Regions from separate parts of the Homo sapiens genome. Here region 2 is linked to region 1. A link means that fine-mapping ties the variant in region 1 to the expression of a gene that starts in the linked region. Tissue or cell type: whole blood. Region 1 holds a variant in brackets; the other region holds the start of a gene. All regions are shown on one strand. Distances are between the middles of the regions.

Region 1 (8,103 bases):
GACCATACGTGTGACGGTCCTAGGTGGGAGGTGGGAGCTCAGAGGAGGAACCTAACCCATTGAGCGGAGTGCTCAGGGAAGGCTTTGAGTAGGGCCTTAGAGGATGTGTAGAAGTTCCCCAGGAGGAGAGTGACTGAATGGAGAGGGAACAGCATTTACAAAGGCCTGGGAGTGTGAGAGGGCCTGGGGTGTTATGGGCTCGCTGGAGTAAAGTGAGCTCCATGAAGCCAGAAATCCTTGGCAGTTTTGTTCACAGCTGTATCTCTAGTACCTAGAACAGTGCCTGGCACATATTAGGTGCTCAGGACATTCTTACTGAATGAATGAATAAGATGAGAGAAGGGAGAGTATCTAGAGGTGAGACTGGATGACTCCAGCAGTTCCCGATCCTGGGAACTAAAGCAAGATCTTTATCCTGCAGACACTAGGGAGCAATTGAAGGATTTTGAGCAGGGGTGGGGTAGATGATAATGATAATAATGGTGAGGATAATGGGAGCCTGAGATCCGTGTTTTCTTACACCCCATCTCTTACACCAAAGACCCACTCCTCACCATTTCCAGGTGTTTCTAGCTCCTTAAATGGTCCAATTTTAGCCTTCTGCTTACTGGAAAAGAAAGTGCAGCCATCCTGGCTACAGTGCCAGACAGGAGGTCTGTAGGCTTGGGCCAGTGGAATGGGGCTGAAATGGCTAAATCTGGCTCGGAAACACTTTTATCTCAATATTGGTTAACTCTGGGAGGAAGAGACCTTGGGAGAAAAACAAAAACAAAATCCACATTCTCAGGGTCACCAATGGCCATGAGTCAGCCCCCACCAAGGGAAGGAGCACAGAACCACACTCGGGAGGCGCTGGCCCTGTTAGTATGCTGGGGCGTTTCTGTAGGGTGGTGTTCACACCAGAACCGCTGCACTCGAACCAAGTCAAGGTCCCAGAACTCTGGCAGTTCTTTCAAGTTGGGCAAAATAAATGAGCTCAGAAGGGCTTAGGTAGAGGTGAACACGTCCTTTGGGGCTGAGCCTATATCATGGTGGGGAAACACATGGCTTGCAGCTTGATTCAGCTGTAGCCTATGCCTGGAGCAGGCATTGCTGATCAATTGTGGCATTCCTTTCCTGAGCTCATATGAGTGATTTTCTTCAGAACTTGCATTCTCTGGGGGCTACTGGGCACTTGAAATAGGGCTCATCTGAATTGAGATGTGCTGTAAGTATAAACAACACACTGGATTTTGAAAACATAATATGAAAAAAATGACCTTAAATTTTTACATCGATTACACTTTGAAATGATAATATTAGAGGTTGGGCGTGGTGGCTCACACCTGTAATCCCAGAGCTTTGGGAGGCTGAGGTCAGTAGATCACCTGAGGTCAGGAGTTTGAGACCAGCCTGGCTAACATGGTGAAACCCTGTCTCTACTAAAAATACAAAAATTAGGTGGGCATGGTGGCGTGTACCTGTAATCCCAGTTATTTGGGAGGCTGAGGCAGGAGAATCGCCTGAACCTGGGAGGCAAAGGTTGCAGTGAGCTGAGATTGCTCCATTTTACTCCAGCCTGGGCAACAAGAATGAAACTCTGTCTCAAAAAAAAAAGAAAAAAAGAAATGATAATATTTCAGATATAAGATATATTTGGCTAGATAACATACAAAAATTAATTCCACCTATTTCTTTAACTTTTTTTGTTGTTGTTGTTTTGTTTTTTAGATGGAGTCTTGCTCTGTAGCACAGAATGAAGTGCAGTGGCAGGACCTTGGCTCACCACAACCTTCGCCTCCCAGGTTAAGCGATTCTCCTACCTCAGCCTCCCGAGTAGCTGAGATTACAGGCGCCCGCCACCACGCCCGGCTAATGTTTGTATTTTCAGTAGAGACGGGGTTTCACCATGTTGGCCAGGCTGGTCTCCAACTCCTGACCTCAAATGATCTGCCCGCCTTGGCCTCCCAAAATGCTGGGATTACAGGCGTGAGCCACCGCTCCTGGTCTTCTTTAACTTTTATCTAGTGTGGCTACTGGAACATTTTAAATTATGTGTGTGGCTCATATTGTATTTCTGTTGGACAACACTGTTACGGAATATCTGCTCTGCGGGGGCAGGGAATTTTGTCTTTTTTTGTTCACAGCTAAATTTCATAGCACCTAGAGTAGCACCTAGCACACAGTAGGTGGTCAGTAAATTATTTGTGGAATGAATGAATGGATCCTCACCAGCATTTCTCCTTAGGAGTCACCAGCAATTGATCAGATGGAACTTATTTGCTACCCCGAGCCTAGCGGATGCTACACCACAGTGCTAACAACCCCCGTTTGTGCTTTCTGACTTTAGAGCTTGTGTCGCTCTCCTGGGACTCTCCTGATACCCAGTGGGGCAGGTGAAAGTGGACTCTGGTGAATGCACTGCTCCGCTGAGGGTCTTCTGAAAGGGAACGTTTCCGTTCCTTCTGATCAGGAAGCAGGGCAGTGTGCAAATGGTATGGAAATCACTTCTTGTGGGTGTTTGCCTATCTAGGGTGCTGGGGATACTTCCAGTCCACTTCCTGACCCCAGCCCTTGGTCCCTAGAGACAAAAGAGGAAGCTCTGGAGACTTTGAGCTCTGGGGGCAGATCGGGGGAACTGGGGCCCCCTTAGTCTTTCCCCAGCGAATGAGGGCTTGTAGCCCAGAGCATCCTCATCTCTCAATTCAGCAGGAGCCTAAAAATAGTCTGCAGTTTCAGCCTCCCCCACAGCCGCCCGCGCCAAGTGGGGCCCTGCGCCCGGCAGCTCCTCCACAATCCAGACTGTCTGCACAATCTGCCCCAGCTACCGACCCCCATCTCCTCGGCGTCTGTCCCATCCTGGCCCCTGAGAACCCTGAGCTCAGCACTCCCTGCTGTGAGGCCTGCTGAGGGTCTGCTTCACACTCTGCCTTTCCTAACAGCCTGGGCCCTGACCCCTGGAATTCCAGACCCCATGTTTTGTCCACTCTCCATTCTGGAGGGGACGCTAGCCAGACACAAGTGGGGTGAAGGTGTTGCAGGTAATGAAACCAGCACATGCAAAGCATGGGGTGCGAGAGAGCACAACATGCCATGGAAGGGGTGAGCCGGAAGGGCTGGGTGCACGGGATGGAGTACGGGGGCCAGTCCCAAGCTGGAAGGCAGCACCGCAGGTCTGTTGGCTCCCACCCCACGCGTGGATGCCCTGGAGTAGATGATGTCTTCGTCCAGCCCACGGTGGAGCAGGACTGCCCCTTGGATCAAGTAGCCTGCAGTAGCTCTGGTGCCACCCACACCTTGTGTAGAGCCCAGAAGGAACGCTTAGGTGCCAGGGCCTGTCTCCCTGTTTTGGGTCCTCCACATCTTGTGGGAAGCCCTGGTGCCTTCCGGCTCTGAGCTTCTGGGGTTCCTGCCTGCTTAGCAATACAGGAAGTCTCCTCAATGAGGTCCAGCAAGGGGAATGCCTCGAGGCAACCAGTACCTTGGTGGCAGAGCTGGAATGAAACCCTCCATATCCTGATGCCCAGCTGGGACCCGTCCCTCCCATCAATGTCGGGCGACCACTGCTGAGGACACATCCTGGTCAGAACCTGAGATACGGGGCTTGGGGACCTGCCCTGCAGAAGGGTTTCCTGGTGGCAGGAGTGAGTGTGCAGGTGACACTGCTGGCCCATGACGGTTCCACATTCTGAGTGAGCAGGGTCCCAGCTGCAGGAAGTGGTGGCGGCAGA[A/C]GTCACAGTCACCTTCCTCTCCTGGGGGCCGGCTTTCGGGGAAGCCAGGGGAAATGCTGAGCTCATGGGCTGTTCTTCCCACAGCTGGTTTCCAAGGCCTTTTCTTGTCCCTGACATCTCTCCACAGCCTCACCACAGCCCTCAGAGGCGGAATGCCATCGTGGGCATTACTGTCCCATTAGGCAGAGCAGGTGCAAGGCCAGCCTCTTGCTCTGAGCTACCTGCCCCTTCAGAGCCTGGCCTAGAACCTGGACTCCTGCCTCTTCCCACCTCCACACAACACCCTCCCCCAAGGAAACAGGGGTGGGTGGAATCTAGAAGCTTCTCAGGTGAGGTGAAGGTGTTGGGAAGGCATTAGAACTTGAGGTTTTCTCACCTCCACCAGCCCCTCATTTCCCAGCAGATGTGAGACCTCCTTGGTGTGCATGTCAGCCCGTGATAGGTCAGTCTCAGGACGTTTCCCCCAGCATGGGGCCTGTCAGAGGAGCTCCCCCTCCCCAGCCACCACAAGAGCCCAGTCACTGGGAGCGCCCCTGCACCCTGGAAGGCATCCGAGGGATCCAAGCCCATTCCTCAGCTTGAGGAAATGGCAGCCCCTGCAGAGGGCCCTGACTGGCCCTGTGAGTGTGGAGGTGGGGGCGTCCTAGCCCTGATACATCCTTTCCTGAACTCCACCCCAATCATGGGTATAAACACAGGCAGAACATCAATGAAGTGAGAGGAGAGTTGTCTGCCTTGGCAGCCAGCACCAGGGAAGATGGAACTGTGGCTTGTCTACCTGTCTGGCCTTCTGTTGTTCTCTGTCTCAGTCTCATTCTGTTTCCCTGTTGGTCTCTGTTTCTATTCTCTCTCTCTCTGTCTCTCCTTGTTCCTATTTCTCTCTCTGGCTTGACCTCTTATGCTCACTTACACAAAACAAGCATGCATATATACAACAGGTGGGCACATGGGACCACACGTATGACCTGCTCACCCATACACACGTACAAACATGCACATCTGTGCACACATGCATCCACACAGAATCCTCCCTCCTCAGATCCTGTATGTATATTCAGAGAAGGGGGTGGTGGTGAAGCTCTCTTTCCATGTATCCACAGGCTCAGGGAGAACCCACAGTTAATTTCCAGGCTGTTTCTGCCTCCCTGTCACTGGCAACTGGGAGCTTGGAGGAATAGGCTGGGATCCCCACTGATATCTGGGACTCTGGTGGGGATCTCTGGGCCATCATAACCTGCCAGTGAAGAGCATGAGAGGGGAGGGGGAGTCTCCGGAGGTGAGCAGAAGGGACGAGATAGGAAGATGAGATGTTGAGTTAGCAGTGCACTGGCCTGGAGGGCTCTCTGGCTCCTTCCCCTCCTGATGCTCTTCCTGGTGGTCCTGCTGAGATGCCCTATGACCCACCTGAGAGCTGGGGACCAGGGACGACTGGACCACAGGAGGCCCCAGAGGGAGGCGCCTGCAGGGAGGGAAGCCTCCTCAGTCATTTGCCCCACCCACAGAAAGCTGGAGGCTGGACGTCCCTAGGGTGTGTGGCCATGAGGAGAGAGCCTTTATTCCTGTCCTTTCAGGACAATGGGCCAGATGAGGCCCCACCAGGTACTTGGGTTTCCTGGGTGGGTCGGGGCTTTCCTGGAATGCTCAACCTTCCTGGTGTCCCAGGGTTGAGGTAACTGCATGGGAAGAGGGTAGGCAGGAAGCCCTTACGGTCTGTAAGGACCTGTCCTGCCCTGGAGTCTGGGTTCAGGTGGTCATCAGAGCCTGCACGCCTCCACCACTCTCAGCATGTGGGCCTGCTCCCTGTTCAGAGCAACCCCCTTACTGAGCACCTGTGTGGTGCAGGCTGTGCTGGGAGGAGGCTTGTGAAGAGCAGGTGAGCTAGGACTGGGCACCAGAGAAGGAGGAGCCCCTTTCGCTGCTGGGGCAGGAGCTAGAGCCCCCACGGGCATGTTTTGGTGTGGGGACAGATTCAACAGGAGCCCAGGGATCTTTCTGAAATGTGACACTTGCCTCCACCCTCCTTGCCAGAAAGGGACATTGCTCAGCCACCTGGCTCAGCTTCAATAAGCAAGTAGTAATAGTGGTGAACAAAAGCCAAATGCGTAAGTCACGCACCTGCCCGGGACTGTTCTGAAACTTTGTGTGAATTGTCTTGGTTAGTTTTCTCACCAGCCCTTTGAGGTTGATACTATTACTATTGTCTCCATTTCATAGTTCAAAGAACTGAGGCTGAGAAAGAGTAAGTAGTTTACCAAAATTTCACAACAAAAAGATGCATCTAATCTTTGTCCTCAAGAAACAGGGGTTCTACTTTTACTTTTTTTTTTTTTTTTTGAGATAGGATCTTGTTCTGTTGCCTAGGCTGGAGTGCGGTGGCACGATCTTGACTCACTGCAACCTCTGCCTCCCGAGTTCGAGTGATTCTCTTGCCTCAGCCTCTTGAGTAGCTGGGATTACACCACGCCTGGTTAATTTTTTTTTTTTTTTAATTTTTAGTAGATACGGGGTTTCACCATGTTGACCAGGCTTGTCTCAAACTCCTGACCTCAAGTCATCCACCTGCTTCAGCCTCCCAGAATGCTGGGATTACATGTGTGAGCCACTGTGCCCGGCCCAAGCTCCTGCTCTCTTTGCTGGGTTCGCGGTTAATACAAGTGATACACACAGCAGAGAGAAGCAGTCAGGTGGGCCACTCTGGCAAAATGGCAAAGATCAGGTCTGGGACAGAGTCTGCCCCAGTGACCAGGGTTCCCTACACAGAGTCCATTAGCACCCGAGTCTTGGACCTCAGAGGAAGATGATGGGATCACTTGTTCCAAGACACCCTGAGGCTCTGAGACAGGGAGGTCACCTGTCAATCTGTCCTACTTGGGACCGAGGTGGGCTGAGAGGCCCTCTGCTTGGGCTGCAGGGCCCCTGCAGGGGTTGAGGATCAGCTTTCTCCTCTCATTGGTTCCTGCCAGAACCATCTTAGGGAGCAGCTGCTGTGGGGGCTGCTCTCCCACAGCAGGGAACCCACATCCTGCCCCATTACAGCAAAGTGAGCATCCGGTGGGGGAAGGACCCCCACGGGGGGCCTGAAGCTGATGAAAGTTGAGTCAGGGTGACTCAGTGGAAGGCCTCTTCCCACTGCTGTCTCCAAGTGGAATACTGTGGTCAGACCAAAGGAAGAACTTCCCAACCTCTGGTCCCACATCTGGAATGCATGCCAAAAAGGGGTCTCTGAGAGAACATGGCAGTTTGGCAGTTCTCAGGCTCTGTCATGCTACATACTGACCTCAGAAAGACCCCGGGAGGCAGACTGCAGATGGGGAAACTGAGGAAAGGGACAGGACCTGTACCAGAGCTGGGACTGTAGCTGGACCTTGAGTCTGCTCATCATGGGGGCACCTGCCCAAGGAGAGGGCAGCACCCCACTGCAATGCCCCCTATGTTTCCCCAGAGCCCCTCTCCTCCCATCTGCTCCTCAGAGGCCTTGTCTCGAGGTAGGAGTGGAGTGAGGGGGTGGGGGTTTCCCTGAGCAAAGAATAGTTCTCCTGTAGGATGCTGTTTTAAGAAACACACAAATAGACAAGCCACCCAGCCAGTCAGACAAGTTTGGCTTTCCAAACCTGTCCCTGGGGTGGCTGTTGTTGCCTTTTTATTTATTTATTTATTTATTTATTTATTTATTATTTATTTATTTATGTATTTATTGAGTAAAGGTTCATATAACACAAATTTTGCCATTTCAAAATGCACATTGCAGTGGTTTTGAGTATATTCATAATGCTCTATGACACCTACCTCTAGCTAACTCTGGAACATTCCATCACCCCCAAGAAACCTCGTGCCTGTTAGCAGTTACTTCCCCTTTCCTTGTCCCCCAACTAATGTACTTTCTGTCTCTATGCATTTGTCTCTTCTGGACATTTTTTAAAAAATTAAATTAAATAATTTATTCAGAGATGAGGTCGCGCTATGTTTTCCAGGCTGGATTCAAACTCCTGGGCTCAAGTAATCCTCCTGCCTGGGCCTCCCAAATAGTTGGGACTACAGGCGTGAGCCACTGCATCCAGCTTCTAGGCATTTCATATAAATGGAATTGTACATGTCACCTTTTGTGTCTGACTTCTTTCACTTAGCATACTGTTTTCAGGGGTTATCATGTGGTAGCCTGAACCAGGACGCCCCATCTTCTCACTGCTGAATGAGAGCTCATTGTGTGGCTAGGCCATGTTGCTTATCTGTGCCTCAGTTGATGGACATGGACATTGTTCCCACTTTTCGGCTGTTATAATAATATCCAGAATAACGCTGTATGAATATTTGTGTACAAGTTTTTGTGTGATCAGATGTTTTCAACTCTTTGGAACATCTATTTACCTGGGAGTGGGACTGCAGAATCCCATGG
Region 2 (8,103 bases), 32 kb before region 1:
GGGGAATGTCCTGGCTGAGGTTTGGAGGCAGGCAGAGCACTGAGGGGAGGGTGAGGCATGGCCTGGGCAGCCTGAGAAGTGTCTTCTTGGCACTCCTTGCCTGACATGGTCTGCCAAGAGTTGGGCCAGGTATAGTGACTGTCGTGCCTGTGCCTGTGAGATAGTCACAGTGGGCACATGGTATGTTGGGGGTCCCAGATATGGGCCCCAGACCTGTTTTTATTTGCCCATATCCATCCTCCTTAACTTTTGAATTATTTGCCAATATTTTAAAAGAGAGAGTTTCAACAAAGAGTCAATTTTCTTTTCTTTTTTTTGATGGAGTCTCGCCCTGTCACCCAGGCTGGAGTGCAATGGCGCAATCTCAGCTCACTGCAACCTCCACCTCCCAGGTTCAAGTGATTCTCCTGCCTCAGCCTCCCAAGTAGCTGGGATTACAGTTGCGTGCCACCATGCCCGGCTAATGTTTACATTTTTAGTAGAAATGGGGTTTCACCATTTTGGCCAGGCTGGTCTCGAACTCCTGACCTTGTCAGATAAAAATGCATGTAGAATGATTAGGACAGAAATCATTGACCTTGTGATCCACCCACCTCGGTCTCCCAAAGTTCTGGGATTACAGCCGTGAGCCACCACCCCTGGCCTCTTTTTTCTTTTCTTTTCTTTTTTTTTTTTTTGAGACAGAGTTTCACTCTTGTGTCCCATGCTGGAGTGCAGTGGTGCGATCTTGGTTCACTGCAACCTCCGCCTCCTGGGTTTAAGTGATTTTCCTGCCTCAGCCTCCCAAGTAGCTGGAATTACAGGCGCTCGCTACCATGCCCGGCTAATTTTTGTATTTTTTAGTAGAGATGGGGTTTCACCATATTGTGCAGGCTGATCTTGAACTCCTGACCTCAGGTGATCCACCTGCCTTGGCCTCCCAAAGTGCTGGGATTACAGGCATGAGCCACCGTGCCCAGCCCTCAATTTTCAGCTTCTCTTGAAAATCATACTACCTTTCACTACTGGGTTTACTTCTTCATGGTTCCATGGGCTGGAGCTGAGTCGAAATTGCCTTATAGACAGCACAGGGTTCTGCAGACCCCAGCCCACCCACTCCCCTCGTTCTCATCAGTTCCAAGTCTCTGCCCCCTGCAATAGGTAGTAATGGTGGTAGGCAATAGGAATTGTTGCTGCTGTTAGTAGCCAGGAGGTCTGAATGGCCACCAAGCTCTGAGGCCTCAAAGAAGGGGTGGGATCTAGCATGGAGGGGGCTGTTGGGGATTGAATGCCCTCTGAGAGCTACTTCTAATCCTAAGAATTGGGATTCTTGGATCATCGTATCTGTGAAAGGAAGTGAACTGTGTGTGGGTGACCTCACGTCTGCATATGTTATCTCCTCACGGAATCCTTCTATCTCCCACAGGCCTCTTGTTTGAGGTGGGTCACTCCTGTGAAGGCCATGTGTAGCCATGGAATCAGGGCTGAGGAGGAGGTCAGATAACTCTGGAGAATGGAAGGATGAGTTAAGTTGGACCCTGAAAGGTGAGAGGCTTTAGTTGGAATGTTGGGGGGATTGCCCGGGGCTTCTGCCACTGCTTCAAGACCATGAATCTCAGGTCTGTGTGTATCCATTTCTTTCATTCCAAAAGGAGCCTTCTTGGATTGGGCTGTGCCTCAGCTGTCCATGGGGCTCAGGAAGTGATCCTTCTCAAGGTATTTTTCTTATCGATAGAAGCCCTGCATCATTTCTTCCTCCCTCCCCTGAATGTGGAATCATGGAGAAGGGAGGGACAAGAATGTGCCTCCCCATCAGACGTGTCAGCATCCACATGTGTTGCTTCCTCTGCTGGTCCACTTCCCATCACTGGCTGTGAGTGGGAATTGTGCCCCTGTTCTTGGTCCAGGCTCAAGAGCCAGCCTTGGCCTCCAATGAGGCAGGCAGGCCTCTGACACCACCTATACCATTCTGACTTGATTTTCCTATGCTGCCTGAGGCAGGAAAGTCCATGCCTAAACTCTGGTCATAGTGCCTGCCCCACAGTCTAGCTGCCTTTCCCTTTATAAAGTTATTGCCTCAAGTCATGGGCTTAGTTCTCTCCTCCCCTGGCTGCCTGCAGCCAACCGAGAGAGTGGGCTGCCATCTCGCCTGGCCCTTTGTCCCCAGGTTGGCTGGCTTGTGGGGAGGATGGTCTTAAGTACTACTTCCTTCCCCCCTACCCCCCAGTCTGGAAAAAAAATTATCTGGCATCTACCCCAGTTTCCATCTGCTACTCTGTTGATTGGGAGATTGAGCCCATTCCCTGGTCTGCCCTCCTACTCAGCACCTGGTGACCTGGGCCCTATCTAGGTCCTTCTGGGGATGGTTTGGACCCAGACTTCAGCCACAGACAGGAGGCAGCAGTGCCAGGGTACATCACACAGAGAGAAGTCAAGGGTGTGGGTCCTTGAGAAACCACCTGAGTTTCAATCCGTCCTGCCTCTAGTTGTGCGATCCTGGCACTTCACATCCCTTGTCTGTGCCTTGATTTCTTCATTTGTAAAGGGAGGTGACTAATAGCTCCTATCTCATAGGAGTGCGAAGATTGAATGAGTTGGGAGAGGCTATGAGATGGCACAGCACATAGGAACCACAGTGTTAGCAATTGTTATTGCAGTCAGAAAACCCATCTTCGTTCTACCATTTACCGGTTGACCTCGGGCAGGTCCGTCCTTGTCCCTCCCTGTACCTCAGTTTTCTTCTCTGCAGTGGAGTTACGCTCCCTCCCTCAGTGAGAGGAAGAGAGTGGAGGACTGGCAGAGATGAGGTAGGTGAATGTGGGTTATGTGTTGTGAGTTGCCATGCACATGGGCAGTGTTATCATTGATTTTGAATCCATTTGAATTCTTAGTTCCAAAAGGCAGAGACAGGTGATTTCTTAGTTTGCCCTAGCTTTGCATAGAGAGGACAGACACTGAGGGCAATACCTGTCTAGCAGGTGAAACCGAATGTCCATCTTAGAGGCTGGCCTGGGCCAGGCTCCACTGCTGGCTTCAGGGCCACAGGCTTAGGTGCAGGCCTGAGGAGGAGCTCTTAGACTGTCCACAGCCTCCCTCTCTGGGGCAGTGTGCCCCTGTGTATCAGGAGGCTGTTGGCTTCACCCAGTGGGCCAGGAACCTCACTCTGCACTGTCTCTGGAGGTACCTTGAGTTTACCTTCCTGGCCTGCTGGGGTGCCTCAGGACTCTGAGGGAAGAAGGAGGGGACAACTGGAAGCAAAATGTAGAATGGTAAAGCCAAACTTCTTGGTAGCAAAACTTTCCTGGTTCCAGGAGGTAAAAACAACAACCAAATGGTCCTGGCCCCATGGAGCAGGGCAGAGGGCAGAGGGCAGCCAGCCCACCGCCTTTGCTGGTGTCTGCAGTGCGTGAATCGTGTCTAGGTCTGTGAGTTCTGAAGGTTGGATGTTCACCTCTACTCCTTCCTCGGCCTGTCTCCTCTCAGTGCAGCTAGACATCCAGTAAACACTAGATAAGTACTTACTGAGCTGGGTGGATTTTCCATTCATGGTTCCCTGGGGCACAAGTGGAAGTGGTAGGTCTGGGCCCTGTCTGGTCTAGAGAGAGGAGACCCTTTTACAAAGGGCAGGCACGTAGTTCTGAGAGGAGGAGCTGATGGCAGAGCTGGCTGGACTGCTCAGGTAACTGCAGAGGGTCTGGGCCTGGACCCCCCAAGGGAGTCCCCACTGAATGGTCAGGTTGCCTGAGATAGCTGAGCCCTAGGCACTTTGCGGGCAGAGATCCCCTTAAGCTGCTTTGACCCTCCCTCCCCCACAGTGAGTGGGGCACGGGGGATGCTCCCCTCTCTACTTGGGGAAGGGGCCTTCCTAATTATATCCCCCTCCACTCACATGGAAATGAGTTTGGATTTTCTGAGCGTACACCAGCTGGCTTGGGGGGAGGCAGCCCAGAAGGCTGCTGGCTGGGAAAGGGAGGAGAAAGGAGAGGGAGGGGAAGGAGCCAGGCCAAGATGAAAAATTTCCAGTGTTCTCCCAGGCAAAGCAACAGCGGGTCCCTGAGTGCTCCCCACATATCATCGTTGTGCCTGCTGGTAGGCTCAGCAGGGAGCCGTGTCCACTTAGGCGAACGCATCCTCCGAGGACCATAGTCCTCAGGGTGCGAACCACTTAGCTGGCCATAGCAAGGTTGTTGGGTGTTGGACTCCTCTGCGCCCTTGGAGAGAGGTCCTCCACGACTTCTACGCCAATCTTTTTACGGGGTGCGGGGAGTGGAACTGAGGCCCAGAGAGGGGATAGGGCCTGCCGCCCCTGGCAGAAGACCACAAGTCTGGCTTGTCCGCAGCTGGGCTTTCCCCGTAGAGTTGCCCGGGAGAGGGTGGCGAAGGTTCCCCCAGCAGTTCCGCTCTCGCTCAGGAAAGCCAGTGAGGCGAGAAAAGGCTGCGAGGGGCGGGGGGAGGGGCGGGGTGGGGTCAGCGCTGGCTCCGCCTCCTGGCGCTTGGGTCTGCCTGCGGCCGGGCGCTGGCTCAGTCTCGGCTGATTGCCGCTGTCGCTCCCGGGGCCACGGGATGACGCCTCCTCCGCCCGGACGTGCCGCCCCCAGCGCACCGCGCGCCCGCGTCCCTGGCCCGCCGGCTCGGTTGGGGCTTCCGCTGCGGCTGCGGCTGCTGCTGCTGCTCTGGGCGGCCGCCGCCTCCGCCCAGGGCCACCTAAGGAGCGGACCCCGCATCTTCGCCGTCTGGAAAGGTAGGCGGCGCCGCGCGGCCGGTCAGGCGCGGGATCAGACGCTGCGCGGGGCGGGTGCGGAGTGTGCTGCACCCGGAGGGAGTGCGTGCGCGCAGCTCTGCGGGTCCCGGGCTGTCCCCGCGCTGTCCCCGCGTGGAGCGTGTGGGTTTGGGTGAGTGTGTGTGAGTGTACACGCTGGCACACCAGAGCCGGCTGTAACGCTGCGGCGAGCGAGCGGCGGGGGCCGGAGCCCCGGCTAAGTCGCACCAAGTCCCTGGCAGCCAGGAGCCGCAACGCCCGGGCGCCAGGGGAGGGGGCGGGCCCCTCTCTCGGCCCCGAGCCACTCTGGGTCCTCTGGCTCGGGGGCTTCGGCGGAGGACCTTTCCCCGCCTGGGACCCCAACCCGGGTACCCTCCTTTTGAGCTGCGGGCTCTGCTGGCGCGCGGGGCGCAGGCTGGGCCGGCAAGGGGGGCGCGGACCCCTTGCCGCCGCCGCCGCGCTTCGGCAGCGGGAACAAAGACCCCGCCGCCTGCCCCCGCCCCCGCCCCGGCCCGGAGCTCGGGCCAGGCAAGGGGGTGGGCATCCTGCAGCGAGCGGCGGGACATGGTGCGGTGCGGCGGCTTGGGGTACCAGGGCGCTGCCTCAGCAATGCCGGGACCGGCCGCTCCCCCCTTGCCCGCACGTGGCAGTTGTCACCAGAAATCGGCTCCAGCGTTGGGGGGCAGTGCCCGTTGGGTGGGGCACGGCCGTTGGGACCCCCAGGCGGTGGATCTAGGGCGGGGGTGCAGCCTTTAGGCCAGGGTAGATAATAAGAACCTGGGGGACTGGAGTCTCCCCCAGGGCACCTCAGTTTAGACCCTGTACTATGGGACAGAAAGCCGGTTAGGCGGGGGTTTGAGGCTTTCTGCCGCGAGGAACTGATCTCCCCTCCCCTGCATTGCACACAAATGCCTCCCCGCCCCCAGTCCGATTCGGCTCTGTCCCCAAATTTGGCGTGTCTGCGGCCCCCCTGTCGTGATGGTGGGGGACTCGCAGTGGGGGCTGGGGGAACTGGTCGGGTCTGGCCCCACCGGGAGCCTTTTGATGCCTTTGGCAGTTTGCAGGGATTGCGGGAGTCTGAGCATTATCTGGGGCAGGTATTATTAGCAGAGGGGAAAAAAAACCATACACAAAACGAGTGGCCCGAACTGCCGCAGTAGCTGAGGGAATGTGACTTGCCCAAGGTCACTGAGCAGTGTGGGAGCCCAGGTGCAGGCAGGGGCTCTGATCTGGCACAGGACCAGTCCAGGTTCTGGGTTAGGGAGGGGAGAAGGATTTAGGTGGTTCAGGGACCATGAATGAGGTGCTCTGGGGACCAGCTCGGCTACCCAGCCTGAGGTGCTCCTGGAGGAAGCCGAGCAGTGCTGCTAGAGCTCCGGCCGCCTGTACATGGAGGAGGCCTGCACACCCCTCTGCCATCCCAGCTCCAGCCCAAGCTTCCTTTGCCCTCCCAGCAGCTTTGCCTTCCCTCAGTCTCCTTGGCTGTCTTGGACATCATAGCGTGTGGGCACTCTGGAGGGGACAAATGGCCACATCTGAGTGTTCTGGAATCTTTCCCTCCATCAAACCCCTTGCATTTTGACTCTGTTTGCCTGTCCCAAAGTCTTCCCATGACCCCCCACCCCCACCCCACTTAATGCACACCCACTTCTTAGCACTTAATGCATACATCCCATCCTGGGCACTTAGTTCCCACCCTGAGGCTATTTAAAGTTGCTTTCAGTCCTCTTACCCACTTTTCGAAGCTCCCAGCACAGCTCCATGGCCTACCCCCCCGCCCGCAGTTCACTGCTGTAGCCACACTGGCTGTGCCCTCTGCTTAGTAATGCACTGTTGAGCCCCGCTGGCTGGGGTCTGCCAACCGTTCACCAGTCTTGTCCAACGACAGTCTGTGGTCTCCTTCACCAGTGCCAGGTGCCCCACTGGCCAGACAGGCCCTGCCATTCACCTGCCCCCCACCCCCAGGGCCACCAGCTGGTGATGGTGTGCCCGACTGACAGCTGCCTCCTGTCTCCTGTGGGGTGACACATGGCAATCGGACAGGAATGGGCTTGGGTAGGACAAACCCAGGAACAGGGTAAGAGGGGGTCTTTCTGGAAGCCTAGAGCTCTGTCTACCAGTGGTGGGTGGGAGTATGGTGGTATCCAGGAATGACAAAATCAGGGATGGTGGTGGTTCTGGAGCCATTTCTCTATGAGGCATAGATGGGGGTTTTAGTTTTGAGTCAGGACAGCTGTGGGGACTGGAATAGGTATGGAAAGTTCTTTATTTTCTGCTGCTTGGATCCCCAAGTTCTAGAGAAAGATTAAAGCAGGGAACTCTGAGAGGGGCCCAGCCTGCACTGATCAGGGAGATTGCTGCCTCTGCAGCTTGATGAAAGTCTGGCACAGCGTAGCTCAGGCCAGGGAGAGAGATGGGCCATCATGTACCTGCTGGGTGTCCTTGAGCTCCACACTTGTCTTTGACCCTTAGAGCCTGCCAGAGCAAGAAAGGCTGTAGGGATTGTCCCCCAAGGGCTGTCACTGACACATGGGCCAGTCAAGGATGTGCATGTGTGGTCCTGATCTTCCTGTAAGCAGGAACTGTAAGGGAGTAGATTGCAGGTGAGGGCTGGGGCTTAGCAGGAGGTTGGCATGCGTTTGTAAGCTGTGCACCCCTCTTCCATTTTATCAGTGGTTGGAGGAGCTAAAGAAGGCTTGGAACCCCAAGGTCAGAGGTGAACCAGCCTGTCCATGGGGAAACAGAACCCATATCCCCAGTCTCAACCTGCCCGGCTGGTTCTGCCCTCCCTCGCTTTTGTCCAGTGAAACAACGGGATGTTATTGTTGACTTGGTGGCTGCTGGGGAGCCATTCTGGGGCTGCTCCCCAGGGCAGGAGGTTGTTGTTACCTCCTCCAGGGGATGAGGTCACATCTGGGGCTTCCCAAGCATCAGCATTTCCAGTGGAAATCCTTGCCCCCTTGGGGACTTAGATGTGTTCATCACCTTCAAGGTGAACTCCCTCCACAGAGTCTCATGGTGGGGGGGCAATTCCCCGGAGGAGAGGGGGAGTTTCCTAAGCCAAGAGAGATGCTTGGTGAGGTCACCAGGAGCTTCCTACCAAGCTCTGTGACCCCTCTGTCCTGGACAGTGAAGATTCTGAGAGCAGGTCCGGTGGAATGGACGCTGGCACAGGTCCAATGATGACCATGGTATAGGGGAGAGAGCTGGGAGGTCGGGAGCCTGGTTCAGGCTGTGACCTAATTTGCTCTGTGACTGGGCAAGTCTTTGCCTTTTACTGAACCCCAGTTTCCCCAAATGCCCAAAGAGGGTAGGGGAGGGGGCTCATCCTTTTCTGAGATTTAATGTCTTAGGATTTCTCTCTC

The links. PIP is the estimated chance that this variant, and not a neighbour inherited with it, causes the effect.
Region 2: SEMA7A starts here. The variant in region 1 is fine-mapped to the expression of SEMA7A in whole blood (TOPMed, PIP above 0.99).

Annotation. Positions count from the first base shown.
Region 1 is chr15:74,398,732-74,406,834 of GRCh38, reverse strand. No RefSeq gene overlaps it. Among named protein-coding and RNA genes, the nearest start is that of MIR6881, 8.6 kb to the left of the region's middle. RefSeq lists enhancers at 815-914, 935-1,004, 1,025-1,074, 2,494-2,573, 2,834-3,103 and 7 more and a silencer at 3,659-3,868. The variant A/C (reference allele first, on the strand shown) is at 3,711.
Region 2 is chr15:74,430,358-74,438,460 of GRCh38, reverse strand. SEMA7A (semaphorin 7A (JohnMiltonHagen blood group)) reads left to right here and starts at 4,503. Exons shown (of 14, transcript NM_003612.5): 1 at 4,503-4,720. The coding sequence starts at 4,543. RefSeq lists silencers at 4,361-4,870, 4,921-5,070, 5,221-5,340.